3 linked regions of the Homo sapiens genome follow. The protein of the gene in region 1 purifies or fractionates together with the protein of each later gene. This does not show direct contact. Each region holds a gene or a part of one and is shown in the gene's direction. Other genes may lie near its edges.

The links.
Region 2: the proteins of LHX6 (region 1) and RNF187 purify together in Homo sapiens (affinity purification with mass spectrometry; 3 studies listed by BioGRID and IntAct, with this or other methods). This does not show direct contact.
Region 3: the proteins of LHX6 (region 1) and ARID3B purify together in Homo sapiens (affinity purification with mass spectrometry; 3 studies listed by BioGRID and IntAct, with this or other methods). This does not show direct contact.

What each region holds. Positions count from the first base shown.
Region 1 is NC_000009.12:122,202,068-122,204,987, reverse strand, and holds the end of LHX6 (LIM/homeobox protein Lhx6), read left to right. Parts: intron 1-207; coding exon 208-228; coding exon of another isoform or gene 229-287; 3' UTR 288-2,406; downstream 2,407-2,920. UniProt on the Homo sapiens protein: Probable transcription factor required for the expression of a subset of genes involved in interneurons migration and development.
Region 2 is NC_000001.11:228,490,368-228,496,718, forward strand, and holds the end of RNF187 (E3 ubiquitin-protein ligase RNF187), read left to right. Parts: intron 1-2,685; coding exon 2,686-2,907; intron 2,908-3,515; coding exon 3,516-3,518; 3' UTR 3,519-5,821; downstream 5,822-6,351.
Region 3 is NC_000015.10:74,593,206-74,598,661, forward strand, and holds the end of ARID3B (AT-rich interactive domain-containing protein 3B), read left to right. Parts: coding exon 1-31; intron 32-2,405; coding exon 2,406-2,569; 3' UTR 2,570-4,926; downstream 4,927-5,456. UniProt on the Homo sapiens protein: Transcription factor which may be involved in neuroblastoma growth and malignant transformation. Favors nuclear targeting of ARID3A.

The sequences.
Region 1 (2,920 bases):
TCCTTGTTTTAAAGATGAGGAAACAGGCTCAGAGAGGTGCAGTGAGTTGCCCAAGGTCCCACAGCAAGTCAGTTGACAGAGCCAGGATTTAAACTCAGATCTGGGCCCTGAGTCCACCCTTCTTCTCTGTGCCTTTGAGGTTCTCTGGGGGGCAGCAGGGTGGGGCAGGCCCCCAGCTCAGCCACCTCCCATGCCCTCCTCTTGCAGGTCATCCTTTTTCAGTACTAACGCTGCCGGCACTTCCGCATCTGCCCGTGGGCGCCCCACAGCTGCCCCTCAGCCGCTGAGATCCAGTGTCCAAGCTGCGGCCAGGAGTCCACCCACCTCCGCATCCACCCCCGTCCGCCATCCTGCCCACCACCAGGTCGGTTCCCGAGGCCTGGCCTTTCCCTCTCCTGCTGAGAACCAGAACCCACCAGGAGCACCACAGAGTCCTCCTCTTGGAAGGCAGAACTCCCTGAAATCTGGAATCAGGGTGGAAACAGCCTGTTTTTCCCATTTAAACAGGAGTCCTCTTCAACTTCAGCTGATTACAATAACAAAAGGCGGAATTGAATTGTGCGATGCCAACGGCCTTCTCATTTACAGGTTTTTTTCCCCCACATTGGCCTTTATTTACTACTTCCTTGGAACCATCTCTGAATTCTGAATAGCTGACAACCCCCAATGTTATCCACTCTGTTGCTTTTGTCTGGAAAACTCTACAGTGTTTGTGGGATGTCCCCAAAGGAAAGCTATGTTCTAATTTTATCATTTCCATCTGTCTGGTTATGTCAAGTTAATTCAGAAAGAGAAGAGACAGTGACCAACCCTGAGAGGCCTAATAGGGCAGAGATGGAGGCCTGCCCAGACTAGGAGGCAGCGGGGATAGACAGGGAATGGGGAGAAGAAAGACCCCCATTGGTTTGGAAATCAAGGAGAGGGCGGTGACATATTGGACCAGAAGAGGCACTAGCCATTTTAAGGAGAGGAAAGAGAAAACTCTGGGGTCAGGGAGAGACCCTACCCCCACCTAATTATCCAGCATATATGTAAGAAACATAGCAGCGATGGTATTCGATCTGTGCCATGACTCTTCTGAATGTTTGGACAGGTTAGAGTTGGGGACCCCTGTTGGCCACTTGTTGACCTCTCATAGTGGTGCTTGGGCCAGGTCTTCTCAATGGAAGGGGAATCCCTTATAGGGGAGAGGGAACAGAGCCCAGTGAAATGGCAGTCAGAATGTTAACCCTGGATCCATCTCTAAGTAGAGAGAGGGTGCCCATTGCCTAGGTGAGTGTGCCAAGCTCAGGATTCCAACTGGTGCCTCTGAGCTTCCCAATCAATACTTCCTGGAGCCAGCCCCACCCACCCCTGAGAACAGAGGTCAGACACAGCTGCGTAACATCCATCCTGCTACAACTCTTCCACCCCAAACAAAAGGGCTCAGGCTACACACGACCATGATTTATGTTTTCAGGGGATGCCCATTTGTCCCAAGCTTATCCTGTAATTCTAGAATTACCTGGTGTCCTGATGCATTTTCCACTAGAGGTTGCTAATCAGCATGTTTTAGCCCAAGTCCGCCTTCCTGCTGTGGTTAACCTGTTATGTTGCTTTTGGAAGGAGACTCTAAGACAGGGAAAGCAAGTTCATGGTACATACGCAGCCATTGTCTCTGTTTTTACCCATGGCAGACATTGCTAATCAATGGCAGCTCTATTTCACTGAGTCTGGATAAGGTTTCAGAGTTCAAATGCTTGACGTTGGCACTTAACATGAAAGCCTATAGGTCATTCTTGCTCTGGGATCTACAGGCAGGGTAGGCACAGGTGCAGCCTAAGAAGGGAACCTGCTTCCTCTCCCTTCCAAAGACAGTGACAGCTGACTGAGGGCAAAGAGCAGGCACCACTCAGAACGTGGTGAGTACAGCTCAGCTCAGCACTCAGTCAGTGGTAACTTGTGCCCAGCCCTGTGCTAGGCGCTGACATTAACAGGAGCAACCAGGGCCCAATTCCTGGCCTTGGAGCTCAAATCTTTCCTTTGATTTTTGCTCCTGATCATCAAGGCCCCAGTGGCAACCATGTGGTAAGTGGCCAACCAAGCCCTACCCAGGGTCACCCAACACACTCTGCCTTGAGCCTCTCCTCAGGGTCTATTCCTTGCGTGGATTATGTGGCCGTAGCATGTTACAGTTCAAACATGTCTCCACTACCCTGTTAAGAGCAGCCTGGGAACGTACAGGCCATCAAGACTATTTATTTAAATACAAAAAAAGGGGAAAACACACACACGGAAAAAAAATTGTAAGCACTTTTTTTGTAAAACCAATGTCTGTTTTGTTACATACCTTTCATGTCGTGCTTTGTAAATGTCTTATTTGTGTAATAAAGTTAATGCAAGTAGAAGTGCTGGCACTGAAATCCAGAACATGATGGGATTCCATTTCTTTCCTGCTCTCTGGTGAAGGGCTTAGGTCCCTGGCTCCCAGAATATGTGGGCTGCTGGACAGTGTAATCCTCCTTCCTGGGAAACGGGTACCATTTCCCAGTTAGTAAACAATGGATTGTGGAGGCCTGACGATGGGTTTCTTCTGTAAGTACTCAGTCACACCTGCTTCTTATCTAAGCTTTGGAGGAAATCAGGCTGCTTGATGCCCTCTGTTCCAGTCTCTGAACATACACTCTCTGCTGGGCCCTGTGCTGGCTCTGCACACTGAGAAAAGGCTCCCAGCCAGACCTTGTCCTGGAGGAGCTCTCAGTCTGGCAAATACTGTGGGAGCCAAGGGGGTGGGTGTTAAAGCTGGATCCTATCAGATGAGAAGGTCACAGAATAGGTAAGCAAGAGGGTGGGGCAGGGAGGGAGGTGCAGAGGAGCGTGTTTGGAAGATGGGGAAGAATTTAATAAGGTGAAGTTAAGGGAATATGGAACGGGCAGCAGG
Region 2 (6,351 bases), on another chromosome or scaffold:
TCCTTGCCTTGTGAGTGGTCAACACTGCCCAGTGCAAGTGAGGCTGGAAGGCTTTGGGGACCTCCAAGTTTTCAGTAACCCTGTGTTACCCCAAGGGAATTGTTTTGCCCACAGATTTTAGCAGGTTGGAGCTTTCAATCTGTCCTGTTTTGGGGGTTTGTGGCTTAGATGCTGGGATGAGAGAAGCCACCTAAATCCAAAGGAAGGAGTTTGCAGCGTGTTGCATCAGCCAGCCAGCAGACACCCAGCTGTCATTTGCATTCTCAGCAACAAAAGCCTTGGCCCCTCATGACTATGGGTGTCACCTGCCCTGTGTGGCCCAGGGCCAGGTGGAAGCCATCCATGACTGAGTAAAATCAGAGTAGCATCCTGCTCTGCTCTCCTGTTTGCAAGGTTAGGAGTTGGCTGAAAACCAGCTGAAGAGTGGCAAGTGTGAATGCTGTTTGTTGAAGGCTGATGGGATGGTTTTCAGCCATTGGAGTTCTGGTGTGGGCACAGCAGGGACAGTTGCTGGCAAGATGGGTGTGTGTCCTGCCCTGACAGTCACGTGCCTGACAGGCTCTAGACCTAGCAGGGCCACTCAAGGATTTACTGTCCCCTTGGCCATGGGAGATGGGAGAGGGACAGTCTTCCTGTGCAGCTGAGCACTGCAGTGTAGGGGAGAAAGAACTCTATTTCTCCCCTTTTAGGGCCCCAGGCTGGGCGGGAGAATTAAACTGACATAAGCTAAACTAACAGGGTCAGGTGCAGTGGTTCATGCCTGTAATCCCAGCAACTTGGGAGGCTGAGGTGTAGGAGGATTGCTTGAGGCTAGGAGTTCGAGACCAGCCTGGGTAACATAGTGAGACCACCATCTGTACAAAAATTAATAAATTAGCCAGGTATGGTGTTGCATCTGTGGTCCCAGCTACTTGGGAGGCTGAGGTGGGAGGATCACTTAAGCCCAAGAGGTTGAGGCTGCAGTGAACTGTGATGGCACCACTGCACTCCAACATGGGTGACAGAGTGAGGCCCTATCTCAAAAAAAAAAAAAAAAAAAAAATAAAGGGAGATGGGTTAATGGGAGAAAAAACATAGGATTTTTTTTTTTTGAGATGGAGTCTTGCTCTGTTGCCCAGGCTGGAGTGCAGTGGTGCGATCTTGCCTCACTGCATCCTCCACCTCCTTGGTTCAAGTGGTTCTCCTGCCTCAGCCTCCCGAGTAACTGCGACTACAGGTGTGCACCACCACGCCTGGCTAATCTTGTATTTTTAGTGGAGATGGGGTTTCACCATGTTGGCCAGGCTGGTCTTGAACTCCTGACCTCAAGTGATCCAACCACCTCGGCCTCCCAAAGTGCTGGGATTACAGGTGTGAGCCACCGTGTCCAGCCAGGCATATTAATTTAACACAAGTTTTATACAGCACAGGCTCCCTTATAATGAAATGAAGACTCAAAGTGGCAAAATTAAATCACTTATATACTGACTTGGACAAAGACTAGCCACTTGTAAAAAAGCAACTACATGATGTGGGGATGCTTGAAAGAGTTGTTTTCACAAGGTCTGTACCAAATTCTGTCGGCCTTGACTTCCTGTCGTCCTTGATGATAAAATCATTTTATTTGATATGGGGAGGGCGTCTTTCACTTGGGAATTTCATTTGCTTTTAAGAAGCAGAATGGAGGTCAGGGTGATCTTGCACTGTTTTTTGATTTTTTTTAAAAAAGGCCTTGCTCTGTTGGCCCAGGCTGGAGTGCAGTGGTATGGTCATAGCTCACTGCAGCCTCAAACTCCTGGGCTCAAGCGATCGTCTTACCTCAGCCTCCCGAGTTGCTGGGACCATAGGTGTGCACCACTATGCCTGGCTAATGTTTTTGATTTTTAGTAGAGACAGGTTTTCACTGTTGCCCAGGCTAGTCTCGAACTCCTGGGCTCAAGCAATCCTCCCACCTCAGCCTCCCAAAGTACTGTGATTACAGGCATGAGGCACCGTGCCAGGCCTCTTCTGTTATTGTTTTTTTTTTTGTTTTTTGTTTTTTTTTGGCTCACCGCAACCTCTGCCTCCCAGGTTCAAGCGATTCTCCTGCTTCAGCCTCCCAAGTAGCTGGGACTACAGGCGTGCGCCACCACGCCCAGCTAATTTTTATATTTGTAGTAGAGATGGGGTTTCAGCAGGTTGGCCAGGATGGTCTTAATCTCCGGACCTCATGTTCTGTCTGCCTCAGCCTCCCAAAGTGCTGGGATTATAGGCGTGAGCCCCCGTGCCTGGCTTTTTTTTTTTTTTTTTTTTTTTTTGAGATGGAGTCTCGCTCTGTCGCCCAGGCTGGAGTGCAGTAGCATGAACTCGGGCTCACTGCAACCTCCGCCTCCTGGATTCAAGTGATTCACCTGCCTCAGCCTCCCGATTAGCTGGGATTACAGGCGTGCCACCACGCCTGGCTCATTTTTGTATTTTTAGTAGAGACGGGGTTTCACCATGTTGGTCAGGCTGGTCTTGAACTCCTGACCTCATGATCCGCCCGCCTTGGCCTCCTGGAGTGCTGGGATTACAAGCGTGAGCCACTGTGCCTGGCCTAATAGTCGATGTGCCTGAGCAGCATGTTTTGGAGTGGCATGTTCTTAACTCCTTCAAGAGCAAACAGGTTCCCCTTCCCCTGGGGAGGGTGGGTGAGGACACAGGTCTTTTCCTGCCACCCGTTTGCAGGGACACGTGATGGACCGTAGGAAGAAGGCACTGACCGACTACAAGAAGCTGCGGGCCTTCTTTGTGGAGGAGGAGGAGCATTTCCTGCAGGAGGCTGAGAAGGAGGAGGGGCTCCCTGAGGACGAGCTGGCTGACCCCACTGAGCGGTTCAGGTCACTGCTGCAGGCGGTCTCGGAGCTGGAGAAGAAGCATCGCAACCTGGGCCTCAGCATGCTGCTGCAGGTGCGGGAGCCCCGCTGGGTCTGCCCACCATCGGGCCAGGGTGGACGCAGGCAGCAGCGAGCCATTGGGGGACCATTGCCCGAAGTCAAGGCTTAAAAGCCCAGCCTGACTCCCACTGCCGTGGCCTTGCAGGGCTGAATTTCGGGAATGGGTGGGTGGTCAGGGAAGGTGATGGGAAGGGGTTTTAAGTTGAGGAGGGTCTGAGGTGTCCCTGACCTTCACAAAGGAGGGCACTTGGCATCCCGAGTGCCCGAGCATGGAAGGCTCCTGCCTCGCCCTGGGGTCCTGAAGGCAGAAGCAGCCAAGAAACCCAACCTCAGGGCTTTTCTTCTGCCTCTGCCCAGGGCCTGGCCTGAACCCCAGACCCTGCAGCAACCCAGATGGCCCTGAACGGTTCAGTTGCCCGTGCCAGCCATAGGTGACAAGGCTTTGGCCCTGGGGAGACGGAAGTCTGGGCCAGGCCCTGGGTTTGTTGTGCTCAGGACAGTACCTCATGCGCTGTCTCATGTGCGCTCTCTCTTTCGCTCTCTCCTTTTGCCTCTGTCTCTGACTCTGTGTGTCTCTTTCTCTTTTTGTCTCTCTGTCTTTCCCTCTCCCCTCCCATGCAGTGATGGCGCCAACCCGTGGCAGTCCCAGAGCTGGAGGCAGGAGGATGGATCCTCATCTCCATGGGAAGTGTCAGCGTGTGGCTGCCAGGGAAGCGTGGCAGGCGCCTGGCCTTGGGTCCATCTACATAGTTGCGTGTTTCAACAATGTCCATTTATCCTTCACCCCGAGGCGTGTTTTGGGGGCTGCAAACACCTCCCGGTAGAGGCTGGACCTGAGGACCCTTCCCACCTGTGCCCGTCCCTTCCTGAAGTCCTAGCCACAGCCCATCCTCCATGAGTCCCGGCAGCTCTGGGTCATGCCCTTCCCTGGTCACCCATCTGCCCCTCACCTCGTCATCCAGGGACCCAGACCCTGCACCTTCCATGTGGGCCCACAGATCCTTGGCAGGTACCTGAGGTGCACCATTGAGTGTCGGATTTGGGGTTAGCATCCAGAAAGAAGAATGCGCATGACGCTCTGTGAAGGCTGGAACTCAGGTCTTCAGGGAGAGAAAGGAAGACTGGATTGCACCTTGATGCCTCCTGAGGAGGCGGCCCCCCTCTTGAGGTGGGCGTGGGCCCGGCCCAGCCTTATCCAAGTCGCTCTGTCCACCTCCCCCTTCCTGGCCCCCACCCCACTCCTGTGCCTCCCAGGAGCCCTCCCTGTGCTCCACCTGCCTCCGCAGAAGGAAGCCTCTTTCTCTGTTTCCCTGGGTGAGGGGGCTGGCAGGTGGCTAACCCCATTTAGCATCTCCAGGCCCTGCCATCGTGTCTCATCTTGCTGTTATCTCTAGCTCTTTCCCTCCTCCCATTTCCTTTAGTAGTTGAATTTTGCAAAGCTTGTAGCAGTAGCTCAGTTGCCTGCAGCATCCTTGTGTGTAGATAAATTAGTCGACAGAAACTCAGCACTGGGGACAGGATTGCAAAGTCGGGGACATAGATGCAGACAGTTGTTGAGATTTGGGGATAGCCGGGCTTGTGAGCGGTGCCCATTTCCAGATGAAGCCTTTCAGCCCTTCTGAGTCCCCGGCCCTTGGTGCGATGTCTGTGAGTTTGACCTGCCCAGCGTGTGGGCTGGCTCAATGCTGAATAAAGTGGGTTTGTGTCAGCTCGTTTGCTTCGTCTCCGTGTGTCCACCTGGCCTCTTCCCCCTGCCCTGGCCACCCTCCAGTGTCAAAGGAAACTTCCTCGTGACACGTGCTAAAGCATGGTGAGGAGGACTTTGATTGGGACCATTGAGATGGGTGTGGGACCCTTTCCTTGGGGCCTGGGGGGAGATGGGGCTCCACCCCGACGTAGCAGGGCAGGGGTTGGAGGAGCGAGGAGCAGTATAGGGTCCATGGGTGGGAATGACTGTGAGGAGACATCAGGGCTGAGGGGGCTCTGGCTAAACCCACCTCACAGAGTCCTTGCTGCAGGCAGGCAGGGCGATCAGACATTGGCTGCAAACGGTCAGAGAGGAACCCAGTCAGGTACCATTGAGGGTGGTCAGATATTATGGTTAACCAAATTAGGGTTCTTGCTAAAACTGGATTTCATAAGAAAGGGCAAAGAGGGCCCTAGGAGAAGATTCCAGAGCCTGGCCAGAGTTTGGCCAAGTAGAGAATCTTTGTCAGCACGCCAACAACATCCCGACCCTGAGACCTCCAGTTTGTCTTTCTCACTGTCTCCGCCTGCTGCAGTCTGCTGTCATCCCTGAGCATCCCTGCCCCTGCCCTGCACACCTGTGATGCTTGCCCGGACAGGTCCTGATGGCAGAGTCTCCCACAACATCAGTGTCTCCACATCACCAGGTCCGACAGTGGCTTCACCATCCTCACCTAACCTAGCTGACCAGCAACATCCCACCCTGTCAATCACAACCTCTTTCTATTTAAGAAAATTATATATTTATGGGGCACAGTGTGATGTTTTGATATCTATGTACATTGTGGAGTGACAGATTAATGTATCCATCTCATGTTTTTTTTGGTGGTGAGAATATTTGAAATCTACACTCAGCAATTTCAAATACAGTCATCCCTCTGTGCCTAAGGGGGATTGGTTCCAGGACCCCCTCATGGATACCAAAATCTGCAGATACTCAAGTACCCTGCAGTCAGCCCTCCCTCTGCACATATGTGGGACAGTCAGATACAGAGGGCCAACTGCGTACAGTACACGGTTATCAGCTGAAGTCACCATGCTGTGCAATAGACCTTGAGTTTATTCTTGTATAGCAGGGACTCTGTACCCTCTGACTAGAATTTCCCCAAATCCTCTTGTCTCAGCCCCTGCTAACCACCGTTCTACTCTCTAATTCTATAAATCAACATTTTGATTCCACATATAAGTGAGATCATGTGATATTTGTCCTGTTCCTGGCTTATTTCACTTAATATAAATGTCCTGTAAATTCACCCATGTTGCAAATGGCAGGGTTTCCTTTTTTATGGCCAAATAGTATTCCATGATGTGTATACACCACATTTTCTTAAGCCATTTATCCACTTTATCCCTTTATCACTTTGCTTCTAGACCACGTAGGTTGATTCCGTATCTTGACTGTTGTAAAAGTGCTCTTAAGAAACACAGGAGTGTGGGTATCTCTTCCATATATTCATGTCGTTTCCTTTGGGAAAATACTTAGCAGTAGGATTGCTGGGTCACGGTACTCTTTTTAAGTTTTTGAATAACCTCCATATGCTTCTCCATAATGGCTATAATAATTTACATACTCACCAACATTTATTTTCTTTGAAATTAGTCATTCTAAGAAGTGTGAGATAATCTCATTGTGATTTGGTTTACGTTTCCCTGATGATTAATGATGTTGAGCATTTTTTTATATACCTGTTGGCCATTGGTATGTCTTCTT
Region 3 (5,456 bases), on another chromosome or scaffold:
TCTGTGGACATCGATGGCACCACCTATGCAGGTGAGGCCCTGGAGCTCTGGGGGAGGCCCACGTGGCCGCAGCTAGCCACAGGGCAGCTCTGCGGCTGGCCCTGCCTCTTACCCTCTGTCTGAACACCTCCCACAGTGGCTTCCTTTTTCCTGGTCTCAGAGTTGCAAAGGTCAAGTGGTCCTCTGGACTAGTAGACTGTGGATTGTTAACAGGATGATAGGTCCCTCCCACTTTGGCAGAAACCCTTCACCTAACCCTTTTAGACCAGTGGTTGGCTCGTTAATTGAAGAAGTCAGTCAGTGTCCCACAATCCCCAGGTCTTCTCATGCACAGCCTTTCTCTGACTGTAATTCAGCTCTTCTCTTCCTTTTGCAGACTGAGACACAGGCAAAGGAACCCCAGTATAGGAGAATCAGCTTACATTGTTAAGCTCCCTGCCCCCCAGTCTTTTACAGTTATCTTTTCCTAAACCTAATTTGGCAACAGTGTTTTGTTGGTTGGTTGATTTCGCACCTTTACAGAGTCTTTCTAAGGGTTTAACTTAGTATTCATGACTGGGCACGGTGGCTGATGCCTGTAATCCTTGCACTTTGGGAGGCTGAGGCAAGAGGACCACTTGAGCCCAGGAGTTTGAGACCAGCCTGAGCAACATAGCAAAATCCCAAATCTACAAAATACAAAAAAAAATAGCCAGGCATGGTGGTGCACACCTGTGGTCCCAGCTACTTGGGAGGCTGAGGCCAGGAGGATCACTTGAGCCCAGGAGGTCGAGGCTGCAGTAAGCCGTGATTGTACCACTGCATTCCAGCCTGAGTGACAAAGCAAGACCTTGTCTCAATTAAAAAAAAAAAAAACAAAACTTAATATTCATAAAAACAGCAGTCCTTTTCCCATTCCCATTTCATTGGTTTACGGACGAGCTTGGGAACAAGCCCACCTGACTCTTGTTAAGCACAGCATTGCTGGGCGCGGTGGCTCACGCCTGTAATCCCAGCATTTTGGGAGGCCAAGGCGGGTGGATCACGAAGTCAGGATATCGAGACCATCCTGGCTAACACAGTGAAACCCCGTCTCTACTAAAAATACAAAAAGTTAGCCAGGCGTGGGGGCGGGTGCCTGTAGTCCCAGCTACTCGGGAGGCTGAGGCAGGAGAATGGCGTGAACCTGGGAGGCAGAGCTTGCAGTGAGCTGAGATCGCGCCACTGCACTCCAGCCTGGGCGACAGAGTGAGACTCCGTCTCAAAAAAAAAAAGCACAGTATTATGAGTGGGGGCCACCAGGCCTGGCCCAGGGCATCACCCACCTGTTTTACCAAGGGCCCAAGGGCATGCGGAGTGTCAGCCAGCCTGGCAAGGTGTCTCGTGGAGACAGGCGAAAGCCCTACAACTGCACCTTCTATCACAACTGGGAGTGTTTCCTCAGGGCCTACTCCCATTCTAAGGGCCACACTCCCTCAGAGCACCGCCCTGCAGGCCTCCTGGGAGCATGCTCTGGATCTCTGCTGGGCCACTCACTTCAGAGAGAGGACAGAGTGTAGAGGAGCAGTGGTGCCAAGTGGGCTCACCAGTCATGCTATGTCTGCAGACTCTGCTCAGAGGTCTCTACCTGTCACAGGAGGCCCCTGGAGGAGGTGGGGCCTGGTGCCCTTTGCCTCTTCATTGTGCTGTGGTTTGGGAGGGTTGGGGGTTGGAATTAGGTCCATGGAGAAAGCAGGGAAGTAGGAATTCAAGGCCTGGATCTTGATATCCTTTTGTCCTCTGTCAAGGAGAAAGGAGAAGGTAACTCCTTCCCTCTCAGAATGAGGAAGGGTCAGAAGTTGAAGGCTCCTCAAACCCCTGACAAGAAGGGAGCCAGTCACCCACCCCACCTGGCTCTGTCACCCAGGCTGGAGTGCATTGGTGCGGTCATAGCTCACTGCAGCTTCAACCTCCTGGGCTCAAGTGATCCTCCTGCCTCAGCCCCCTGAGTAGCTGGGACTACCCATGCCCAGCTAATTTTAAAAAAAATTTTTATAGAGACAAGGCTCTTGCTGTATTGCCCAGTCTGGTCTCAAACTCCTGGCCTTGAGCTATTCTCCTGCCTCACCCTCCCAAAGTGCTGGGATTATAGTTGTGAGCCACCACACCTGGCCTTGGTGTTCCTCTTTGTGTACCCTGGGTACACCTTGTCTCAGAGCATTTATGACATTTTAGCAAAATTACTCTGTCGACCTATCTGTCCCCCTCCCCAGCCCATCAGCACTTCAAGGCAGGACAGCATTTGGATCTTCTCCCATCACCCCCTAGCACAGTGTCTACAGCGGAGTCAGGCACAGGCTAGGCCAGCGGTGAATACTTACTGAAAGGAGCTGGCCCTCCCCTTCGCTCTTCCTCTGCCCACACTTGCTTCTCTTCCACCCACCAAGGTGTGCTGTTTGCCCAGAAGCCTGTGGTCCACCTCATCACGGGGTCTGCTCCCCAGAGCCTCGGCAGCAGCGCCAGCAGCAGCAGCAGCTCTCACTGTTCACCAAGTCCTACCTCATCCCGGGGCACCCCCAGCGCAGAGCCCTCCACCAGCTGGTCCCTCTGATGGGCAGGACCCAGCTTCCCACTTGCCACTCTCCTGTCGAGAGTGAAGGAAGTTGATGCACAGAATTTACCTCATCTCACAGAGCCCACGTCGACGAGCACCATTTGGCCAGACATTGAGAGTTTGGACGTGTCCGTCTGTCCAGGCTCCATTCAGGTCCTGCTGTACTCTGGGGGCAGGGAGAGGCTAGAGGGGCAGGACAGACAGCGTTGTCCAATCAGGGATTGTCCTGGAGAACTGGGTGGGGGTCTGTGGGTGTCCAGCTTCCTCCAGGGTTCCCCAGCCACCTCCCAGCTCAGGGCACAGTGTATCGACAATCTGTCAGCCGACGCAGGGCTGGAGGCCCTCCATTTCCCTCCCCTTTTAATTTATTTCCCTGACCCTGCCTTCTGCCATGACCCCAGGGCCACTAGTCTCTTCCCCTGTTTTTAAGTCCCATGTGGGGCTGCCAGGAGCCAAGAGCATGCCTTCATGCCCTTCTCTGCAGAGCATGGGATGGGGCCCTTCCAGCCCACTTTGCCTACTGTTAGGTTCCTGGGGTACGGGTCCCTCAAACACAAGTCTTGAATCAGTCCTCAGGGCCCCAGATCCCCCTTCTAATAGTCTGAAGGAAGAGGCTGTGAGGGCAGTTCAGGGCCAGGGCCCACAGGGCATCTGCTGATGGGAAGGCAGAGCCTCGGGGCTGCCCAGCCCTGGCACCTGCTTCACACGGACCATTCTCTGACCGCCCCCGCCAAACCTCATGCTCCCCACTTGCCCTTATTGGCCTGCTTTCCCAAAAACAGCCCACTCATCCTTTCCCCAGCCCTCTTCAGCCCTCCCCAGTCCTCCCCAGCCTTCTTCAGCCTTCTTCAGCTCAGCCCTCTTCTATTTCTTATGGGGCCATCTTGGCCTCACCATCCCCACACGTGCCGATGTCAGGTTCATTGAAATACCTCAGATTTGTAATTGTTGATGTTTGAGTCTTCAGGAAGTATTTGCATCTCTGAAATCTTTTTTATATGTGTTTTGCTGACTTTTGTTTTTTTTTTATTTTAAAATTTTTATCGTAGCACCAAAGAAATGAAAACAGATCACCCCCAAAGCCAAGCAAGTGATTGGGTAACCCGGCCCCTCTGGCCCTTCCCTCAAGCCCAGTGAGGAGGTGGGTGGAGGCATGCAGGGGAGACGACTCAGGGATCGCGGGGGCGGGGAGGTGGAGTGGAGAGGCCCGCTCTCACACCGGGTCGGGCCCTGAAACTGTACCAGTTCTGAAGACCGTTTTCTGCCACACCCCCACCCCCAGCTGACCAGGGAGGCAGAGGACACCTCCCCATCACTCAGCATTCCCAGCTCAGGGCACAGGCAGGCTGGGGTCCTCGCTGGCCTTGCCAGAGGTTGAGCCGCCCCAGGGTATGAGGAGATGAATAACTCCACAGCTCCTCCTGGACCCTGCGCGGGAGCAGGCAGCTCCTGTGCTGTAAAGAAAATTGATTCGCTTGCGGCTCACCTCAGTCGAGGAAGCCCTGGAATGTTCAGCAGAACACCACCACTGTGACATGGGGCTGTGGCAGTGGGAGACACCGCGCGTGGCGTGGGTGTGTGTGGCAGCGTGGCTCGCATTCAGTCCTGTGTAGGAGAGGAAAGGGAATCAAAAGCTTGAGCACAAACAGATACCTCAGCCCGGTAAGCTGCAGCTCTGCTCAACTGCGTCTTCTCTCAGCCCTCCACACACACTCACCCCCACTCCCACACACATACACACACACACACACATACCCCATCTCCCGAGGGCTGACCTCCTCTGGCCTCAGCCTGCAGGGTGTGGGCAGAGAAGGGCATCTGGGACGTGGTGCCAGTGAGGAGCCCAGTTGGCTGGCACTGGGCCCATTTGAAGGTGTCTCAGACATTTGGCCAGTATGTCTTTCTCAGGGGTTTGGTCACAAAGGATGGACTCTTCCCACCCAGAGGATGCAGGGAAAGCACACTGTGTCTTTCCGGTCATTGGATCCTCTCCCTTTCCCCAGGCAGCTCGCCTGGCCACACCGTTGGAGTGAACCCTCACTGCCCTCAAGGACAACAGCAGGGTGTCACCCAGAGCCCGATGAGGGGTGCCAGCAGGTGCCCCCACGAGTGGGGCCTTGGCCCAAGCAGAGCTTCCCCTGAAGGTGCCATCAGCCAGGGCAGCTCTGTCCCCTCCTGCTCTCCATCTTATATGTATTCTAACCAGGAAAAATGTGATAGCACATGGGTAGCCTAGGCAGTGAGTAAATACCTCAGATGTCCTCCTGCAGCAAGTGTCTATATGTTGTGGTTATTTTCTATCTTACATGTTCTCGAATGTTTATATTTCAATAAACCTCTACCTCTTCACACAAGCAGGTCTCTCTCAGTTGCTTTGAGTGGCCTTTCCACTGGACAGTACTGGGGAGAGGTGAGCTCCTTCAGAGTGAAAGGGGACTGAGTGAACTACTCCTGACCCCTTGATTTCTCCTGAACCTTCTCCCCTTCACCCACGCCTTCTTCAAAGGGAAAGCTCACTGAGCTCACTCTCAGCTAACCTTGTGTGTTAGCAGGTTTCTCTGGCGTTACCCCAGAAGCTCCTAGAAAAGCCTGCCCGGCAGCAAGCCACAGGCCCCGCCACGCCATTGGCCAGGATTGAGTCACGTGCCCTCCCCAGAGCCAATGGGAGCGAGGGGGCAGGGTGACCGGGAATGACCTTAGACTGCCCGCCCTGCGCGGAGGGAGATCCACTACAGGCTGCGCCTCTGCCCCTGCGAGGGGCACCCCTGGGTCTCTGGGAAACGGAATGGAGGGTCTTATGGAAGAGAAGGTTTGGAACCACCGCTGGAGGGAAGGGGAGAAGAAAGCAAGCAGGAGTGGCGCGAACAGGAAGGGACTAGGGATA